3 linked regions of the Homo sapiens genome follow. The protein of the gene in region 3 interacts with the protein of the main gene of each other region in a biochemical or structural test. Each region holds a gene or a part of one and is shown on either strand. Other genes may lie near its edges.

Evidence for each region.
Region 1: the proteins of PDX1 (region 3) and ATF3 form a complex in vitro, tested with the Homo sapiens proteins (one study listed by BioGRID).
Region 2: the proteins of PDX1 (region 3) and PCIF1 form a complex in vitro, tested with the Homo sapiens proteins (one study listed by BioGRID).

The regions. Positions count from the first base shown.
Region 1 is NC_000001.11:212,611,659-212,618,764, reverse strand, and holds part of ATF3 (cyclic AMP-dependent transcription factor ATF-3), read right to left. Parts: intron 3,748-7,106; 5' UTR 3,744-3,747; coding exon 3,504-3,743; intron 639-3,503; coding exon 531-638; intron 1-530.
Region 2 is NC_000020.11:45,937,635-45,944,740, reverse strand, and holds part of PCIF1 (mRNA (2'-O-methyladenosine-N(6)-)-methyltransferase), read right to left. Parts: exon of another isoform or gene 7,043-7,106; intron 5,761-7,042; 5' UTR 5,742-5,760; coding exon 5,618-5,741; intron 5,527-5,617; coding exon 5,402-5,526; intron 4,267-5,401; coding exon 4,129-4,266; intron 3,933-4,128; coding exon 3,802-3,932; intron 3,689-3,801; coding exon 3,534-3,688; intron 1,645-3,533; coding exon 1,497-1,644; intron 1,402-1,496; coding exon 1,318-1,401; intron 1,076-1,317; coding exon 976-1,075; intron 1-975. UniProt on the Homo sapiens protein: Cap-specific adenosine methyltransferase that catalyzes formation of N(6),2'-O-dimethyladenosine cap (m6A(m)) by methylating the adenosine at the second transcribed position of capped mRNAs.
Region 3 is NC_000013.11:27,915,959-27,923,018, reverse strand, and holds the start of PDX1 (pancreas/duodenum homeobox protein 1), read right to left. Parts: upstream 3,020-7,060; 5' UTR 2,881-3,019; coding exon 2,475-2,880; intron 1-2,474. UniProt on the Homo sapiens protein: Activates insulin, somatostatin, glucokinase, islet amyloid polypeptide and glucose transporter type 2 gene transcription. Particularly involved in glucose-dependent regulation of insulin gene transcription.

The sequences.
Region 1 (7,106 bases), on a different chromosome or scaffold from region 3:
TCTCAGGCGGGCCGGCTGAACGCAGCCAGGGGCTCAGCTTACTGGCTAAGCCAGGGAGAAGGGCTCTAGAGTTAGGAACCAGACAAGAATGCAAAGCAAGTGTAACCACTGCTTGTGGATTAAGGAAATAACTTGTTTGAAGAGATTAATTAAAGGCTTTTCATAGTGAGCCAAATGAGAGCTGGCAGCTTCCTTTTCTCAGGAAAACAGTCAAGTGAAGCCTCTTTAACTGGGCTGGCATGTCCTGCAGCCTGGAAGCTGATGGACATGTATGAACCGGCCGAGGCTGCTGGGAGTCAGGCATCAGACGAATTCACACACCTGTTTTTATACATCCACCGTCACATCCATTGTGTTAACTGCTTTGCCACCTCCTCATTCTGCAACTGGCATTTCTGCTACCAGCTACAAGGCCCTTCTTGGGAAACTATAACCAAGTAGGGGGTTTTCTAACTCTTCTTCTGATAGCCACATGAAGCTGGTGAAGACAGGCGTGAGCGAGAGGAAGGGTAAGGCTAGAAGGCACTCACTTTCTGCAGGCACTCCGTCTTCTCCTTCTTCTTGTTTCGGCACTTTGCAGCTGCAATCTTATTTCTTTCTCGTCGCCTCTTTTTCCTTTCATCTTCTTCAGGGGCTACCTGTAAAATCCAAAAGAAACACATTTAAAGGGCAGTAAGAAATGCCACCTACCTCAAATACACTGCCTTTTACTGCCAGCAAAAGCTGGCAGACAAGGGCAATGCTAGCGCTAAAAGACCCCGAAATACTAAAGCTCTAGACTTTTGTGTGAAAACCCCTACACACACACACACACACACGCACACACACACACGTGAGTGAACAACAAAAATCAAAGTTAAAATTATACCGGCAATATATTAGTAAATTAAAAGTTAGCCAATTTTAAAAATGCATTTGGATTTTGAGATGAGGATAATATGCAAATTGATAACTATTGGTATTAACTATAATCATTTAAAGCCGAAACAGATTCTGTCTGGTAAACATCTCCTTTCTTTGAGAACCAGGAATGATCTCAGGATCATTACCTAGCCACCCACTCCCGGCCTCTTCTTCAATTCAAGACCCAAGGGCAACCCCATTCACCTCTGACTTCACCTGGAGCATCAGAGCACCAGCTTCCCAAATTTGGGAGAAGCCCATGATGCTCCTGTAGAAAAGGCACCTAAGCCCATTCCCAACCAAAGCGGCATTAATCGGCCCATGCTGGGGTGCCACCTGCAAGTGGTGAACTAGGACAGTCTTTTAGGTCAGTCCCACTACTCCTTGCCCAAAGGCTGCAATCATGCCAGTTGAGTAAGCCTGAAACACTTCCACTTGCCACCATGAGGAAAAGGCCAATAAAATGGTGGAACCTCAGCTCTGACATCCTTAAGCCACTATGGCATCGCCAGAAGCCACCTCCCAGACTTCTCACCATGTTTATTATTCCAGGAGTCTTACCCAAGGTTGCCAAGCGTGGAACAGTGCAAGTGTGTCAGACAGAAGTGAACCTGGAGCAACACCTGGTCCCAAGGCTGTGAACATTGCTACAGGGAAGGGTGGGGCAGGCTGCCTGGTCCTTGCTCTACTGTCTGGGTGCTTGGGTCCTAGTAGTGATAAAAACAGGGACCACCACGCTCCAAGCTTCTTCAGAACAACTGGACACAGAAGGTGGCCTCATCCTGACTCATGGCTTTAAGTGCCATCTATATGCCGATAATTTCCAACTCTATTATCTCTAGCCCAGACTGTCCTCTGAACTCCAGACTCACATATCCAACTGCCTGCTTGACATCTCCACAGGGGTCTGCAGAATAGGACAGACCTCCTGCTCTTGCCACCACCCTAACCCCTATAATCCCAAATCTCAGCAGCAAATGGACGCTCCATTCTTACAGCTATGCTGGCCAGAAAACTCAGTCACCCTTGAGTCTTCCCTTTCTCTTACACCCCACATCCAATCTATCAGCAAATCAGCTTTACCTTCAAGTCAGATCCAAAGCCAACCACTTCTCAGCACCTGCACTGCTCCCTCCTGCTGCAGGCCCCCTGACTCACGTGGATTCCTGCCACGGCCTCCTTTCTGTGCACTCAGCTTCTGTCTTACCCCTACTGCCCATTCTCAACATGACAGCCAGGGTGATCATTTAAAAATATAAATCAAGGCTGGGCGTGGTGGCTCACACCTGTAATCCCAGCACTTTGGGAGGCCGAGGCGGGCGGATTACCTGAGGTCAGGAGTTCGAGACCAGCCTGGCCAACATGGAGAAACCCCGTCTCTACTAAAAAAATTCAAAAATTAGCCAGACGTGTGGCGGGCACCTGTAATCCCAGCTATTTGGAAGACTGAGGCATGAGAATCCCTTGAACCTGGGAGGCAGAGGTTGCAGTGAGCCAAGATCATGCCACTGCACTCCAGTCTGGGTGACAGAACAAGACTCTGTCTCAAAAAAAAAAGTGTGTGTGTGTATCTGTGTGTGTGTGTGTGTGTTGAATCTTGTTGCTTCTCTGCTCAAAAGCCTTCTGTGGTTTCCCACCTCACTTTGAGCCCAGGGCTGCATCTATACAATAATAATCTGTAAGACCCAATATGACCAGCCCCTATTTATCTCCCACCCCTATACTCTGCCCCACTGCACAGCCCACCAGGCACCAATACTTCCACCTCAGTGCCCTTAATTTCTTTTACCAGATACCCACGTGGCTTCTTCCCTCTCCTCTTTCCTTCTTCCTTTCCTTTTGACCTCTGCTCAAAAGTCACTATCAGTGAATCCTTACCTGACTTCCTAATTTAAAACAGCAACCCCGGCTGGGTGCAATGGCTCATCCCTGTGATCCCAGTGTTTTGGGAGGCTGAAGCAGGAGGATCGCTTGAGCCCAGGAGACTGAGGCTACAATGAGCCGTGATCACCCCACTGCACCCCAGCCTGGGTGATGGAGCAACACTGTCTCTAAAAGCAAAATGAGTCTTGCTCCATCACCCAGGCTGGAGTGCAGTGAGGTGATCACGGCTCATTGCAGCCTCAACCTCCTGGGCTCAAGCGGTCCTCCCACCTCAGCCTCGCAAGTAGATGAGACTATAGGCCATGTACCACCTTGCCCAGCTAATACTGTCATAGAGATTGGGTTTCATTGTGTTGCCCAGGCTGGTCTCAAACTCCTGGACTCAAGCGATAATCCCATCTTGGCCTCTCAAAGTGCTGGGATTATAAGCGTGGGCCACCATGCCTGGCCTGAAAAGTTTTTAAACCCAGCAACCCCATCCCTACCCGTTCTCTCTGCCCCGCTCCCTGCTTTTTTCTCCTTTGCACTCATCTCTTAACGTGTACTTACGTATGTTATGTACTTCTGTCTCCTCCCAGGAGAAGGTAAGCTCCCTGAGGGCAGTGGTTTTGTTTGTTTCACTCTCAACAACAGCCCCCTGCCTAGAACATGCCCAACACACAGTGGCTGCGAGCGAAACATGTGCCGAAAGAATGAATACCTGTGATAGAACCCACCTCGGCTTTTGTGATGGACACCCCGAGGGGTCTGTCGCTGACAGTGACTGATTCCAGCGCAGAGGACATCCGGTGGCAGAGGTGCTTGTTCTGGATGGCAAACCTCAGCTCTTCCTTGACAAAGGGCGTCAGGTTAGCAAAATCCTCAAACACCAGTGACCCAGGAGGGGACAGGCAGGGGACGATGGCAGAAGCACTCACTTCCGAGGCAGAGACCTGGCCTGGGTGTTGAAGCATCATTTTGCTGAAAGACACATTGAAACCCAAACTGTTTCAGGGGCTCTGGGGCATGGGATCAAGTCCCCCTCCCCCACCAGACCTCCAACACCAGAGCCCCACCCTCAGAGAAAAGTCCCATAAGCCCTTGGGTTTCTGTTTTGTTTTCATTTCATGCCATCCTCATCTTAAGTAAAGCAGGTTCTTAAAATACACATAGCTCAGTGACATGAACAAAATGCCTATTTGAAATTTATAAGGGATGATGTTTCAGGCTACTCTGAATTCACAAGATCTATGAGTTTTGGCTGGTGTGCCTATGTGCAAATGTGGCCACAAACAGTCCTGAAAGAGGAAGAACATTTTTTAAAAATCAGTGAGGCCATTTTAAAAATCATGAGTAATCTCATTTTCAGCTTCTTTTTCTTTCTCTCTCTCTCTCTTTTTTTTTTTTTGTATATTACTCAAAATAAAGTTTCTTTCACTTAAAAAAAAAAGCCTCTTTTTCAAAGAGGCTTGACGTCAAGCTGAAACTATCAGTGAGTGGAAGTAAAAGCAAAAAGTGGGGAATCCTTGAATTTAGCAAATACATCTCTGAAGCTTCTCCCCCGAAGTTGGGCCCAAGCAATGGGAATGAGAAAGGTAACTGTAGCCAGGTGCGTTTCTTCACCCCAGTCTTTGGCAGGGGATGGGGAGGTGGATTCTTAAGGTTAAGGTTGGCAAAGCAAAAGGTCTTAAAGAAAAGTGAGGCACTGTATTGTGGGGGAGTTGTTCAGGCCTGTGGTATAGGGATAGACTTAGGCTGGGTGTGGGGGCAGGGAACCCTGGGGCTGGCTCTGGCACTAAACAGCAGTGACTTGAGCTAGTAATTTCAGCTCTCTAGGACCCAGTCTGTGTCTGGTAAATGACTGACAGCTCCTCCAATGCAAGCATTGAGTCTCCACCATTGCTTTACCCAGAGCCTGGCCCAATGCCTGACTCGCCATGCCTCATTGGCCAACTGATAAATGAAGTGGGGATGGGGTCATCAAATCAAATGGCCCCCACGGTCCAAGGTTACCTTTCTCATTCCCATTGCTTGGGCCCAACTTCCGAGGGAGAAGCTTCAGTGATGTATTTGCTAAATTCATCTCCCTCTGTTATTCTATAGCTCGGTGAACCCAAAAGGATGACAAAAGGAAAATAAAGAGTAGAAATAGTGACAGTTCCATGGCCCCAATTTGGAAGAGTCCCCCATAAGTCTTGGCCTGCTGTGTACTCCCTCCAGTGGTGGCCATTTCCCCTCCTCCCTGCAGTTGGTTCCCAAGGGACAATGAGTATAGGGATGAGTGTAGGATGAGTGTGGTCTGGGCATTCCTCTCAACCGGGGATCTGTGGTCATTAGCACAGTCCAGACAGAGAAGAAGCCCTCTGGCAAGTCTCGAACATTTAAGGAGTGCCTCCTTCATACCAGAAACCTTAGGGGCACTATCTCATTTAATCCTCACGAGAACCCAGTGAGTTAAGATCTAGCTGCCTTTTATAGATGAGATAATTGAGGTTTAGACAAACTAAGTCATTTGCCCGAATTCACAGAATTAATATGGGGCAGCATCAGGATTTGGAATTAAGTTAGTTTGGCTCCAGGATTCATGCCCTTAATTTGTACATTGCAAAAAACAAACAAATATTATTCTACATTACAAAAACAAACAAGCATTATGTTATATTGCACAAACAAACAAAAAACCAGAGCAAATTTTCTCGGGGCAGGCCTTAAGGTAGGTGGGAGGCCTGGAAATGAAGTGATAGAGGGGAGGCTAAGTAAAGATTCCTCGGGATAAACTGAACTCTGTTTAATGAACTGCTAATCTTTATGTCACGGTGCATACCCAGGCTGCTTGCTAACTGCCTTCTGGGAGTGTGAGCAAGTGGGTCTCTTATCCACAAAATTCCCAGACTGAGGTCAGAAGATGAAGATTTGAAGCCCACTTACTCCATTATGTGTTATCATTGTACCTCCCCGTGGCTTTTTCTCCTCTGTTAAAGAGGGCTTGTAATAATCGCCCTATTTTCCCATAATATCCTATGAGGAATTGAGGAACTAATACATGAATATGCCCTGGAAAACATTCTTTGGCCAGGAGCTCCATGATTACTAGGCCTCCCAGAGATCTCTCCAGCCCAGGGCTGGCTCTCTGACAGAGGCTCTGTGGAGTCCAGGAAGGAGGGCAGCTGGTCACCCACTTTGATCTCAAAGGCTTCTGAATAGAATACCCTGACTTCAAACTCCCCCTGGAGATCTAACATACACCAATGGAGGCAAGACTTCCAGGCCAATGAAATCTGCCCTTGACTAGTCAAAGAAACCCAGGCTATGTATGTAATTCTTTTCCCAAAGCCCTGTGTCATGAGTCAGAACTGAAGTTCTTCTCTCAATTTAATCCTATAATCTTAGGATGCTGGGAGGATACTTGTCGCTGTCAGGCAATAAACTCTGAGAAACTAGCCTTCTAAAGCCAGAGGCTTAAGATTCTCCCATGCATTCATGTTTCCCTTCCCTTTCCAAGTTTATTAAAAACTCAGTGATTCGGGGATGACATTCAGAGCTGCCACTGGGCTGGTCTTTGTTTGGAGGCCTGGATGGCTCCCTTCTACACGGGGACTTTGAATTCCACTGCAGTAGAGTGTAGTTCCATTTTGCCATCCAACTAGGTTTATTAATGAGCTCTCAGGGCTTGGGGTCTGCTGTTTATGACTCCCGCCCCCTACCCTTCTTCTTATGTAAAGTCAGCAGTCCCAATGAAAGAAGCTGAAGAATGTCAGTGGTATGGAATGCTTTTATGAAAAGCATTGGGTGGGCTTCCTTGGGGACATAAATGGTTGTAAAAATGTTAAAAGCCTTTCAGAAAATAAAACAGATGTATCTGTCGAGATTTGGGTTTTCTCGGCACTAGGCTAAAGCTTAACTTCTCGGGATACTTTCTAGTTATTCCTTTACTCAGTCTCTCGAGGTATGATTCAGCCTAGACTACGGCTGTGTCCCCACAAGGAAATGAAGTTAAATCTTCACACAATTTTTCAGAAAGTTGAGATCCTCAAACATCCCGGTCATTGAAAAAAATTGTTTGGGGACCTCAGATCAGAGTTGACTTTCTATGCTGATCATAAAATTGTTCAGACTTGCTACCAAGAACTTGCATTTTGTTTCTGCTTGATTATTTCCAATCAGAAATCATGTTGTATCATTGGCAGTTTCATCATTTTCAAGAAAGTGAAAGTTTACTCATGTATTCCTTTAACTGGAAATTCAGCTCCCAGATTTTTATTTCCTAGTAGCTACAGCTACATTGAATTTTCACTTTTAATTTTCATCCTCTTTCCACTAAGCATTGCTTGCTAACCATC
Region 2 (7,106 bases), on a different chromosome or scaffold from region 3:
TGTGTCACTTGGACAAATCCCCTGGCTTCTCTCAATCTTATTCCTCAAGTGTCAAGGGGACACGAGATACCTAACAGGGCAGTTTGAATATTAAATGTGATCATTTCCCTTAAGGGCTTGCCAAATGCCTGGCATACAGTAAGTGTACAATAAATGCCAGTAGCTTTTGTTGGGGTTACACTGCTAGATCCCATGATAATTACCGGAGAAACAGACAAACCAGCACAGTCCCAGCTTATGGTGTTTGCAGTCTATTGGGGAAAGACACAATTACAAAACAGGGTGCTTGGTTGCTGCAGACTTGAGATTTGAGCTTTTAGCTACTTGCAAAGATGACTGTCGGGATTTGTAATTTTGCTGAATCACACGTGTAAAACTGAAGAGTGAGAATGAGTCACTCTGGCTAGTGAGTACACCTACCTTTGTCACTCTCTACGTGTCAAGTACACAGTTACTATCGTGAAGTGCGAAACCTTGTCTCTTGTGAAATATGGTCCTGAAAAGAAAGCCCATTGCTAGTGCTGGTGGAGAGGTTTAAGAAGTGATAGGTTTTGGCCAGAAAACAGAACTGTTTTGGACACATTAAGAGTAGGGAATTGAATCTGATGGTAGCTCTTAACCATGATATGAACACACACACCCAAAAAAAGCAGGCTGTCAATCTGTTTCCAAAAATCTACAAGGGAGATGCTGAACATTCATTAGGCTGAAAGGCAGCTATCTGTGGTGTGTGGCCAAGCATAAGACTCCATTAAGATTGTTAATGGAAATGTTCTGTGGGAGAAAGCCAGGAGCCCAGAGAAACATCTCCACAGTCATGAGTTTGGGGACTGACGAATGTCGAACGTCTGCCATACTGCACAAGAATAGGCCGCTGGGGGAGGCCTTGCCCAGCCTGGACAGGCAGAGTAGGCTTCCTGGAGGAAGTGGCCACAGAGCCCTAAAACTGGCCTTCTCACCCGGGGACCCACTCACCATGTAGTCCTCCTTGGAGGCTGAGTGGTCCTTCCGAAGCCAGCTAAAGGTGTCTTCCACATTCCATTTGACCACCTTCCTACTGTCAGGGGATGCACTCCTGCCAGTCAAGGGGAGGGCAGAAGAAAGGAATGGCTTGGCTCCACCCTCCTCATCCCAATTCCATGGGCTCGCTGGGTATCAACCCCTAGCTTCCATCACAGCCCTTGTTCTGCCTTTGGGAGCTGGCCCCACTTCTGCCACCGAGAGCAATGACAGCCCTGCATGAGACTGGGCAAGATGGCCTATGACCTGCCACTTTAATCACAGACCCATCTCGCCTGGGGCAGAAGACAGGCAAACCTGGACTCGATGAGCCGCCTGGCGGCCTCCGCATATTTAAAGAGCAGGCGCTTGGCTTCCTCCCGGAACTTGATTCGGGATAACCTGCGTTTCAGAGTGGGCAGAGTTAGAGGCCTTCTATACATGACTGGGCACAGAAACCAAATGGCCCAGGGTCATCCCCAGCTGTGGAGCTGTACCTGATAGGAATGTCGTTCATGATTTCACGAAACATGGAAGGTGACACGACTGGTTCACAGTTGCTGGGCAACAGGGGGTCAGATCCTTTGTCTACCACCTTGCGCTCCAGCATCCAGCGGTTGAAAGACTCCCGTGGAGGCTCAATGCCTGCAGGACAGGAGAGCTGCTGAAGGCCTGGATTTAATCAAGCAGTCCCACTTGGAGCTTGGCACGTATAGGAAGCATCGCATTCAGCAGTAAGCAAGACACAGTCCCACTTCAGAAGCTTCTAGGCTGCATTTCCCAAAATATATTCTAAGAATCACTAGTTTTATAGTGTTGATAAGTATCTAGCCAGGCGTAGTGGCTCACATCTGTAATCTCAGCACTTTGGAAGGCTAAGGTGGAAGGACAGCTTGAGCCCATGAGTTCAAGACCGGCCTGGGCAACACAGTAACAGCCTGTCTCTACAAAAAAAAAAAAAAAAAAAAAAAAAAAGAAATTAGCTGGGTGTCCCAGCTCCTCGGGAGGCTGAGGCGGGAGGATCGCTTGAACCCGGGTGGCTGAAGCTGCTGTGAGCTGTGGTCGTGCCACTGCACCCCAACCTGGGTGACAGAGCGAGACCTTGTTTCAAAAGAAAAGAATAAAAAGGCTGGGCGCAGTGGCTCACGCCTGTAATCCCAGCACTTCAGGAGGCCGAGATGGGTGGATCACCTGAGGTCAGGAGTTAGAGACCAGCCTTGCCAACATGGAAAAAACCCATCTCTACTAAAAATACAAAAATTAGCTGGGTGTGGTGGCATGTGCCCATATTCCCAGCTACTAAGGAGGCTGAGGCAGGAGAATCGCTTGAACCTGGGAGGCAGAGGTTGCAGTGAGCCGAGACCGTGCCATTGCACTCCAGCCAGGGCAACAAGAACAAAACTCCATCTTAGAAAAAGAAAAAAAAAAAAAAGTATTACATAATGTAAAAAAAAAAAAAAAAAGGGTGGGCCGGGTGCGGTAGCTCACGCCTGTAATCCCAGCACTTTGGGAGGCCAAGGCGGGTGGATCACAAGGTCAAGAGATCGAGACCATCCTGGCCAACATGGTGAAACCCCATCTCTATTAAAAGTATAAAAATTAGCTGGGCGTGGTGGCAGGCACCTGTAGTCCCAGCTACTCAGGAGGCTGAGGCAGAAGAATCGCTTGAACCCGGGAGGTGGAGGTTGCAGTGAGCCGAGATCACGCCATTGCACTCCAGCCTGGGCGACAGAGCGAGACGCCGTCTCAAGAAAAAAAAAAATTAAAAAAAAAAAAAAAAAGGTGAAAGGCCAGAGGATTCTATATTTGAGCAAGGTTAAATAGGTTTATTACTAATCATAAAAATTAAAAACTAGGCCAGGCATGGTGGCTCACATCTGTAATCCCAGCACTGTGGGAGGCCAAGGCAAGCAGAAGGCTTGAGCCCAGGAGTACAAGACCAGCCTGGGCAACATAGCCAGATCCTGTCTCTTAAAAAAAAATTAGCCAGGTGTGGTGGCTCATGCCTGTAATCCCAGCACTGTGGGAGGCTGAGGCGGGCGCATCACAAGGTCAGGAGTTCAGGACCAGCCTGGCCAACATCGTGACACCCCCATCTCTATTAAAAATACAAAAATGAGCTGGGCATGGTGGTGTACACCTGTAATCCCGCTACTCGGGAGGCTGAGGCAGGAGAATTGCCTGAACCGGGACCCAGGAGGAGGATGATGCAGTGAGCGGAGATGGTGCCACTGCACTCCAGCAGGGGCTACAGAACAAGACTCCATCTCAAAAAAAATAAATAAATAAAATTAAAAACTACAGTTCATTTAATACTTATTCATTTTACTTAATGGTTATCATAGAATCCTAAGGTATAGATACTCTTGTTTTTTTGAAAGAGGGTCTTGCTCTGTCACTCAGGCTGGAGTGCACTGGTGTGATCATGGCTCACCACTGGGCCCCACTCCGCCATCCCCAAACTGGCCTGGCCAAACCTGGCTCATGCTAAAGGTGGGTGGAAATAAAGGAGGCTGCAGCCCAGAGGCAGGTACCCTCTCGCTGCTGGCACAGCTCCCGATAGTGCTGCCGAAGCTTCAGGATGAGCTGAGAGCGGAGCAGTTCCACTTCGGGATGCGGGGGCAGCACCTCTGAAGGCCCCCGGTGCTTGATGACAGCATTGGTCTGGATGTCCAGGTCCCAGTAGACCCTTGGGGCACAGAGAGGAGTGATGAGGATGTCCTGCCCACCCACACCACCCCACAGTCCCAGACAGGCTGACATTAGCAATGGGTGCCCCCAAGCCAATCAGCAGGGACTCACTCAGTGGGTCGTAGGAGAGCTGCCTGCTGTTTATCTTCAGGGGACGTACCCCACATCTTCAGCGTTGGGGTTCCTGGGATACTGGGGGAGCTGGGCACCGACTGGCCTGTGGGTGTCACTGGGATTTCAATCTGTAGTGAAAGTCACAAAGGTGTCAAGTCAGGAGATTCACCAGAGAGGCTCCATCCAATACAGTGCACACCTGGTGAACTGTGTCCCAGGCCCCCCTCCTGGCTGGCCTGCCAATGCCCAGCCCCTGCAGGGAGCCTGCAGGCGGCCCGTCTGAGCCGGCCGCTCGGCAGCCGGCTCCTGGCCACAGACACTCACCTTGGGCTTCTTCACACCATTGCCGCTTGGCTGCTCTTCCGAGAGCTGCCGCTTTCTGGGCTTGTTCTCAGCCGGGGGAGTTTCCACCAAGCTTGAGTCTTGGGGCAGTGGGGTCGCATTCAGCCCCAAAGGGTCCGACTGGTGGAGGGAGACCAGCAGAGTTGCAACCAGGGCCAGCGGCTTAGGAGCCACAGGACTTTGAATCCTCACGCCCTCCCACCCCTGCTCCTACTCCTTAGGGAAGAGCAGAGGAGCTGGGATACAGGCAGAGAACACTGGGCTCCAGTCCTGCCTGCAACTTGCAACTGTGCGACAGGGTGTGTTACTTCCCTTCCAGTTCTCTCACCTTCAGAATGGCCATGCTAATCCCTACATCACCACTGAGATTATTAAATGAGTCAGTGAATATGACCTGCTTAACATGGCATCTGGCATGAGATCAGTACTCATTACACATTATTTTCCTCAAGAACAGAATGAATGTGAGGAATAAATGAAAAGCTCAAAAACTGCTTATTGTTGTAAAAAGCAAGGCCCTGCAGATGGGACTCTTGGTAACACTGAGAGAATGCATGGTGGTGAGTAGTGTGGCCCTGAACTCACATCAGGTGTGCGTCCTGCTCTGCCTATTACTGTGAGGTCTCGTGCCAGTCGTTCCCCATCTTTGAACCTCAGTGTCTTCACATGCAAAATGAAGATGCCAACTGTCTCAACTGTGCCCAGTAAAGAAATGCTGCCCCAGCTGAGAAGGACCCAAAAGCCCATGTTCCCACCAGACAGCCCATGCCTGTACTTCCCGTCGTACTGACATGTCAGATCCTAGAATGTTCTTTTCCTCCCCACACTCACTCACTCTCTCACCTTAAACACTCATTCTCAGAGCTTTTCCCATCTCCTTGCCTTCCCCAGAGTATGTCAGGATCTAGATGTATTCTAACACTATTCCTCATACACGGACCACAAGTGTAATCCTGCTGTCACCTGGCAGCCCATGGGTGCTCTGCGACCGTAGGGAGCAAGTCTGCCTTGTTCATTCCTGCCTCGCGGCACAGCACCCACCGTGCAGCAGCCATGCAATCATCTGTTTACTTGTCAGTCTACCCCATTTGAGTGTAGGTTCCATGAGGGCAGGGGCTGTGTCTGTCTTGCTTGTCATTGTATCTGCAGGTGCCAGCACAGGGCTGGGCACTGAACGGCTGCTCAGGGTACATTTGGGGAAGGCCCAGGTGCCAGAGGCCACTCTGAGACCCCCCCACCCTAGGCTGGCACTCACAATCACATCGTGCTGCCCCAGCACGGGCATCTCCCACAGGGACTGGTTGGTGAATCGGTTGAAGTAGTAGGGACGATTCTCCCTCCGGCTCCAGCACTTCTCCCAGCCTGCATGCACCAGCTCCTCTGCAAACAGGCACGGAGCCCAGCCAGGGTCAGGACTGCTCCCAGGGTGCCCTTCCTACCCCACCACCCCACTACTGCTCCCCCTCAGTACCTGGGAGGTCCTGAACCAGGCGGATTGGCTTTGGAGAACAGGGCTGGCTCTGATTGGAGGTACCTGGGGAGTGACTCAGCAGGGACGCTTCCTCCCGGGGGCTGCCGTGATTCTCATTGGCCATCTCCACACCCACACAGGACCTGCCACACAGAGGACCAAAGAGTGTCAGCTCCACCCCCTCACCCGCCAATTACAATCCACCCAGGGCCCCAGTGACCACCCACCGATGTGGAGAAATCCAATCAGGTCCTATCCTGGAGGGCCAGCATGGTGCCACACAGCAGCCCTGGGATCTAAGCTGCAATTCCAGCTGTTCAATGGGTGCACTCCTGCTGCTTCCTCTGCCTGAAATGCCCCTCCCCCTCTTCTCTGCCTGGCTTGCTACTGGGTTCACATCCTCCAGGAAGCCTTCCTTGACTCTCCCCTCCCCAGGCCAGGTGGTCAGAGCTCCTCCTCAGGGCCGTGAACACCTCTGTCGTAGCACTCAGATGGTCTCATCTATCAGCTGGGTTTGTCTCCCCACTAAACTGTCAGAACTTCCAGAAATAGGAACTGCGTCCAATTCAGCTCTCTCCTGTGCTCAGGCCTAGGACCTGGACCCAACAGGAGCACTACTGATTCTGCAAATATTTACAAAGCACCAAGAGCAGCAAAAAAGACAGAACAGGGTCTGCCCTTGAGAAGCGATTCCTACAAGAAGGAATAGTAACAACTCCCAGAAGGAGATGGGATTTTACTGCTCTCATCCAGTAAAATCTAAAAGGAACAAAGCACACTAGGGAAGGGCATGGAATCTAATTGGTCACCTTATTTTACACTACATGGCAGGAAGCAGCTATTGCTAAAATAACCAATGCAACCAAGAAGGACTATCTAATTGACTCCTTCATAATCCCCAGGTGAATATTTACTGTAAGTACCAGCAAGGAGGCCAGTTCCTTCAGATCTGTATTCCCTACTCCCCCACCCAAAGCACACCCAGCAACAGCCTCAGGAGCCAAAGTGCTTCTGGCCTGGGGCTGTCAGACAACTGGGAGCTAACTGAGATAGAACTGGTGATGCTAAAGTTGTTTTCAGTAGGTCACACCACCCAAAAGAAATCAAACTTTTGCCCACAACAAGACCACAAAGGCAGGCTTAAACATCAGTTATCTTTTCATGCTGAAATTTTATCAACTCATTGTGGTCACACTGATTATCTCATGCTGATCAGAAGCTCTGATTGGTTGTTGATGACATCATACGAATCATTGGGACACTGATTTTATTGTACACTCCATCATAGACGTCTTCCTTAATTTAGGAAGGGAAAAGTCAATGGTTACTCCATCAGTACAGTTTGGCAGATAAAAATGCAGGGGGCAACAGGACATATGTACAACAAAAAGTGCCTTGATAACAAAAAGGTTGAGAACCACTGACCAAGGTACGAAAAAAATGAAGCTGCCTTGATTCTCTGGGCAGGAAGAATTCCTGATGCCTTGGG
Region 3 (7,060 bases):
ATTTCGCGATGGAACCCTACTGGGTTTCCCCCCAGGTCGAGAAGAGGCGCCAGAAGCTGAAGCAGAGGCTCAAACCCTAGTCCAGGGAGAGTTCTACTCCCTGGGGGCATCCCCGAATCTACCTGGCATCCCACGCCTGGGAGAGAAGCGAGACGGGCCTTCAATAAACATTTTGAAAGGCTCTCCAAAGTTTTTACATTAAACCGACATGTCTCTGGGTTCCTGCCTTAGGCTGCGGGCTTCGTATAGTCCCTGCGAGAGGGCTTCGTGAAGTCCCTGCGAGAGACTGCTCAGGGAGAGACTTCCTGGGGTGCACTATTCCCGGGGGACCTGTGCTCAGCGCGACGCGGCAGGGGTGGAGGTTGAGGATGGTGGGAAAAGGTCAAGGTCGCCAAGCCTGGGCCCTTCCCCAAGGCGCAGAGTGATGCAGTTTAGGTGCCAGCTGGACAGCGCTGCTGAAGCATTTGGGGGTCAATGTTTTTCAAAACCTCTGTTGTCATTAGCATTCAGATTCGTACTGCCAGTGAGAGCCCTTTTGTCACTTCGCTCTTCCCAGGGGCAGGTGGGTTTGCAATTTTTGAATTTCGGCTCCATCGAAGTTTCCCCTAGAGGAACGCGGGGATAGCAGCCGGCCCCGCAGACGGCTTCCAGGGGAAGAGAGGGGAGGTCGTCTCCTTCCCCGAGAGTCGAGCATGCAGCGGGTTAGAGGGCGCCAGCAAAGGCCTGGGGCCAACTCCAGCCCGAGAGTGTCGCCCTCCTTGGGTCCCCGAACCCTCGCCAAGGCTGCTGATTTGCCTTCTGGTTTTACTTTCTGGCTTCTTGGGTCAGCCTAAGCCCAAGTCCTCCAGAGCAGAGGTATCACCCCTTGGGTTGGGATAGGGAAGTTACTCCACCTCACAAATCCTCTTTCGGGACCCTGATGTCGCCCATTTCCTGAGGAAGGCCCAGGGTGGGAAAGCAGGAGCTCCGAGGGCCTAGGAGGCCAGAAGAGAGGTCTGGAGGGGAGGCAGCCCTGGAAGAAAACTGGGTGAGGACGAGGAGCCCCCCACCTTTGTTCGAGGGACTGTCCTCCCGCCTCCTAAGAACCCCGCATTTCCGGAGACTTCAAGGCCTTTGGCCCGGGCTGCGCGAGCTGGATAAATTTGCAGAGGCGCCGCGGCAGCTTCTGGCGCCCCTGTCAACTGGGTTTCGCTGGAGGTGGGGACGATTGCAGCGCAGTTCAGCCCTCGTCCTGCCTCAGGACCTTCGCCTTAGCAAGAAAGTGAACTAGGAAGAAGAGAGTCCCGTGGACCCCAGGCAAGCTGGGGTCCCCCTCCCTCTCCCGCACAAAGCCCCTCCTGGCTGCGCCTGGGGTCAGTGTCAGGCAGGGCTGGCCAGACCCCGCAGATGGGCGCTGAGGATTTTCGGGGTGGGCCGGGGGACGCCGGCTCGAGCTGCTTCCCCCTACTCCCGGCTGCCAGTTGAAAGGAAAAGGCAACTATTTGCGGTGCAGGTGTGACCAGAAGTGGCTGAGGCACGGCAGCGATGACAGTGAGTAGCGGCGACGACACAGGCCGCGCCGGAACTTGCCGCTCGCGCGGGGCCGCAAAGGACCCGGGGGCTACCCCGTGCCTCCGGCTCCCGGCTCCGGGAAAGACCTTCTGTTCTCTGCCGGCGCGGAGGGCCGCAGGAACCAGGCCTCTCGCCTCCCCACCAGCTAGGCAGGGAGCGCCCATCTCCTGAAAAATTACTTCCTGGGAAGCGGTGCGGGGAGACAGCTTCAATTGCTTTCGGTTGGTGAAAAACGAATTCGCTTCTCAGATTGCTCTCCTAGCTGCCAGGCTCTGACGTTGAGAGGCCGGCTTTCAGCCTCGCGGTGAGCCCCCGCCTTGCCCCAGCCCCTTCCTCTTTACTCCTATCCTGTTTCCACAACCAGGGCAGCCGGACACTGCTGGGTTGGGTGCAGTTTCCTTTCCCTCCCTGCCTTTCTGCACCTACCTGGCGCCCCTAGATGCCTGCCCTTCCTTAACGAAGCGCGGGAAGTGAGGGGCTCCGGGGCTCCGAAGGCGATCTGGGGCCTGGGTCCGAGGCACCCATGTCCCTACTCGGCTTCCTCGATGTGCACTACCAAGGAGTCCTGGGTTCCCGGATCCCCTGCTGGAGGAGGATCTGTAGTGTCCGAAGCCCTGAGCAGGACTCAGCCTCGGCTCTCTAAGGATGGCGCTGGGAGCGCGGGCTCCTGGGGCGAAGATGGGCTCAGCGAACAGGGAAGGAAGGAGTGTACACTCCCAGGAGAGCTGGGTGGGAAAGATGCTTCAAACTGGACTAGAGAAGCACTGCTGTGAGGGATGGGCTCGGTAGCTCCCTGATGTAGTTTAGTCCGACCCGGGATAATCCAAGGCGCCGGGAACAGAGAGAAGGCTCCTGGGAGCGCTTGGAGGTAAGGCGGCCGGGTGAGAACCGGAAAGGAGAAAGGGGTGGGGAGCCAGGCTTACCTGCCCACTGGCCTTTCCACGCGTGAGCTTTGGTAGACTTCATCCATGGGAAAGGCAGCTGGACGCGGTTGGGCTCCTCCAGGACGCCCGGCTCGGCTCCCTCCGGGAAGGGCCCGGCGGGCGGGTGGGGGAGCGCGAGCTGAGCCGGGAGGTGGTGGTGAAGGTGCGCCACCGCGGGGTCGTCGGCGAGGGGGGGCACCTCGTACGGGGAGATGTCCGGGGGGCTGCCCTGCTCCAGCGCGCCCAGGGCGCCAGGGAACGGGTGCGGCGGCGGCGGCGGGGGCTGGCGGCCCATGTACAGGCACGCAGGGGGGCTGGCGCTGAACTCCGGCGCCGGGCCTCGCTGGAACGCGCATGGGTCCTTGTAAAGCTGCGTGGCCGCGTAGTACTGCTCCTCGCCGTTCATGGCTGCGGCCCGGGATTGGGCACCGGGAGCCGGGAGCCGGGAGCCGGGAGTCGGGAGCTGGAGCCGGGGATTTGGCACTGTGTGGCGTTCCCACTCCCGGCGCCACCCCTGCTCGCTTTGACAGCTCCGCACTGATCTCAGAGGGAACCCACAGCCAGCGCGGACCGGCGGGCCGGCCGCCGCACCATAGGCTCCGCGGGGCCCCACGTGGTTCAGCCGGGGGCCGTGATTGGCCTGGCTGGCCGCACTAAGAGGCTAGGCCCAGGTACCCGCGAGCACCTGCTTTTGTTCCAATTTTCTCTCTCAGCTGAGTTTGCTGCACACTCCTGAACGGGCAGCTGGCGGTGCTCCCCAAAATGGGCGCTCACGAAAACATTAGAACCACTCATTTATAGAAACATTTTCACCGTGGCTTAAAAGTTTCTATTTTCCTATATTTTTCTATTTTCTATTTTCCTATATTTTTTCTATTATATTTGATAATGGACATAGTGTGTTTGTTAATTGATGTAGTTTACAAGGAGACATGTTGAGTTTTTAATTTTTTATTTAACTGTTGCGGAATACGATAAAAAAAAAGTTTGCAGACCCAGCTCTCTAGGTCAGAAGCATTTGATTCTATTTTATTTATGAAGTTTGTTCACAGCCACAAAGATGTCGGTTAAAAAACACACGAAACTCTGGCATTCGTTGTGTGTTTTTACTTGTGGATGTGCTGCAAGTACTTCTGGGGTGTAAACGGTAACTTCTGAAGCATTCACAGAGACTTTTTTAAATTCTTTTTTTTAAAAAATTGAAGGGTATTACAAATTTGGGTTTTGGAAAATTGGGGCCCATTTGGCCAGCCCGGAACGTAGCTTCCCAATACAGCGAGGGGGAAAGACGCGGCCTTCCTCTTGGGGCTGCGAAGCAGGGGCAGGTGTTGGCACGGGGGTTCCAGACCCTTGACGACTCTCTACGGGCCGGGACCCTGGCGGAGTTTGCCGGCAGAGAACACTCACTCTCTTCTGCTTGCAATTGAAATAAGGCAAGCAGGAGAGGGGGAAGTGGAGGAAGAGTTACATATTTAGAAAAAGAAATAAAAACGCTGCATTTTCCATGATAACATCTGTGCTTGGCTTCAAACCATTCAGTAACTTCTGGGCATTCTGGGGTCCTGACTTAAACAGGGCCACTTTTTCTGCACCCACTGACGCGGATGGATGACCTCCGGGTGGCGGTGACGTCCAACCCCCTGCCTGGGCATGATCCGCTAGGCCTGGCGGCCTGACCAGCCTCTGACTGGATACTCCCGAAATGAGGACGTTTCTCGAAACGCCACCGTGGGTTTTAGAAAAACTAGACAGCTTTGCAGAAACGTCTCAGCAAGAGAGAGCTTGAACCACAAAGAACCAAGCCAGAGAAAAATCACTGCTCCGCCTTTCCTAAACAACGCACCAACATCCAGACCTTTGAGAGTCAATCTTAATGTATTTCTTTCTTCCTACTGGAAATATTTGTGTTTTAAGTGCGGATTGAGTGCTCTATTCTGAGGACTCTTTATTTTTATTAAAAGACAAAAAAGCCAGTCGGGAATGTGGACTTCTCTGCAGATTCCTTCTCTTGCGGGAGGCCGGTATAGTCTCAGCATTTGCTTCGATGTGTGAGAACTCATGTGTGTGGCTTCCTGGCCTGTGGCCTCATGTGTGTGGCTCTGATGTGTGGCTCCCTGGCTTGTAGATGCCCTTGCTGTCACCGAAGACAGGCCAAGGGAAGCACGGCGGCGGGCGGGGAGAGTTTCGGTGATTTCTTCAGGGAAAAGTGCCACCTGCAGTTTTGGTGGGGGCAGAGAGTGAAAGGCCGTGGGGCCCGGGCACCTAATCTCTGTGCGCCCGCGTCAATGAGTCCATTGTCTGCGGCCGCGGAGAACTCTACCCTATCACCCTGGCCGCGAGTGACCACATCGATCAGGAGGGCAGGCTGGAGGGGGTTGCCTGGCCGCGGCGTGTTGACCCTTGGAGATAATCTGCCGAGTCGCCGAGGGTTGACTTGGCGACGCGGTTATGAGCGGACGGCAAGCTCCGCTCAGGACAAAGATCGGCCACTTTTCCCCTCCCCCTCCTTTTCCTCCCCCTTCCCCTCCTCCCTGGGCACCCCTACACCCACTCTGGACTCAGTCTGCGCCCCACTCTCCCTCCCCTGCTCCCTGCCTCGCCTGCCACCCCCGGAGTGTTTACTTTGCACTTCTCAACTAATTGCACATTTCTGTAAATTGGTCTCCATTTCGATGCTTCATTTGCTTCCATTTAATATTTTTGCTCGGCCCTGCAGAAAGAAAAGAGGCTCTCAGCAGAAAGCAAATCCGCCGGTTGCGGTCGCCGGCAAAAACCCGGGTACCCGCGGCTGTGGGGGAGGAGGAGGGGATCGCCGGGGGTATTCCATGGAGGCGCGTTCTCACTTTCACAATTAGCATTTTCTGCTGCCTGCGACCTATAGAAGGGACCCAGGGAGCAAAGGTCAAACAACCATTTATTATTGTTATTATTATTATTAGATGAAACAAAGTTATCTGGAATTTTATCACGTACAGCCGTATAAAAAACGCATCAAGCGGAACCCTCCGCTTAGTAAGGTCGTGTGTTGTACTTCCCCGTGGATCTAGCTCCTGGTATCGTAAAATCGCCGAGTCCATTACAGGCGAAATGCGTTTCCGCTCTGAATCCCCGCTGACGCCTGCGCCCCCTCCAAGCCGCCTCGCCCACAACAGGCCCGGCAGCGATACCGAGCCATTAGGCGAGCACCTTCCCGAGCCATTTAACAGCAGCTCTTATGGATAAATAAACAAAAAAGGCTGTAAACCAATTAAAGTGTGGACAGTGAAAAAGTCGTTTATTAGCTGGACGTCCTGATAGTCCTCGCTGATACTGGAGGTCCTTGCCGGCCCTCTTCCCCCTTTCCCTTCACAGAGACGCGGTTTACACCCGGGAGAACACAGGTTACCTTGTTCTTGGTAAGTGGCTAAGTCTTCCTCGGTGGTTTCAGAGGCATGCTAAGGGCTGAATTTGGCTTGGTGATAGGATTTTTAAGCCACTGCATCCCATTATAAATGAAAAAAACAGATGAATCCCACTTAACTCCAAGGTATACATCATGAATGCACGTGGAATTTATATTCATTTTATAATTAAATCTCTGTTGAAAATAAAAATTGTTTCTTGAGTTGGAAAATTCTGTAAAGCAAACGATGTGATGTGTGGAATGAGAATACTTCTATAATTGATTGCACTTTAGTTCATTAGCATTTCCTTCAATGAGCACTAATGCAGGCAGGTTTTCATTTTCCTAAGTCGAATCAATGTTTCCCTCCTGCTGGTTTATGAATACCCAGAATTGGCCGAGGGCGGTGGCTCACGCCTGTAATCCCAGCACTTTGGGAGGCTGAGACAGGCGGATCATGAGGTCAGGAGATCGAGACCATCCTGGCTAACATGATGAAACCCCGTCTCTACTAAACCTACAAAAAAATTTAGCCGGGCGTGGTGGCGGGCGCCTGTAGTTCCAGCTACTTGGGAGGCTGAGGAAGGAGAATGGCGTGAACCCAGGAGGCGGAGCTTGCAGTGATCCGAGATCGCGCCACTGCCCTCCAGCCTGGGAGACAGAGCGAGGCTCCGTCTCAAAAAATTAAAAATATATATATATATATAAATAAATACCCAGAATTTGGTATCCAGGTCTGAGAGGGGCCAGGGAAACCCAGCTTGGGTTGTGGGGATTGGAGAGAGGAAAGGACCTCAGACTTTGAATGAAGGGTTTTCCAATATTCCTAGGGCTAAGCAATCTAGTGAAAATAAGCAGAGAGCTGAAATTATTTTCCAGATGATTCAGTGATCCCTGAACTGTAAAGATAAAAGCAGCTTAAAAACCGAATTGAATTGGGTAATTGTCTTATTCCCTACCTTGTTAGCTCTCTCTGGTGTAAGAGGAGTAGAAGGGCAGGAGGGGGGACTCCGTGTGCCCCAGAACTGTCTGCTGCTTCCTCCAGCCACTGCTCAACGCTTCCTCCCTGGGAGTGGGGCCCCCAGGCACGAGCTCTTTCCACTTTTGGTTTAATCCTTCCGTGGTCCTCAGTTCACTCTGCTGATGAAAGGAAAAGTATGAAAGGACTTTCAGGCTCCAAAGGATCTGAGGTCAGCTGTTGCTC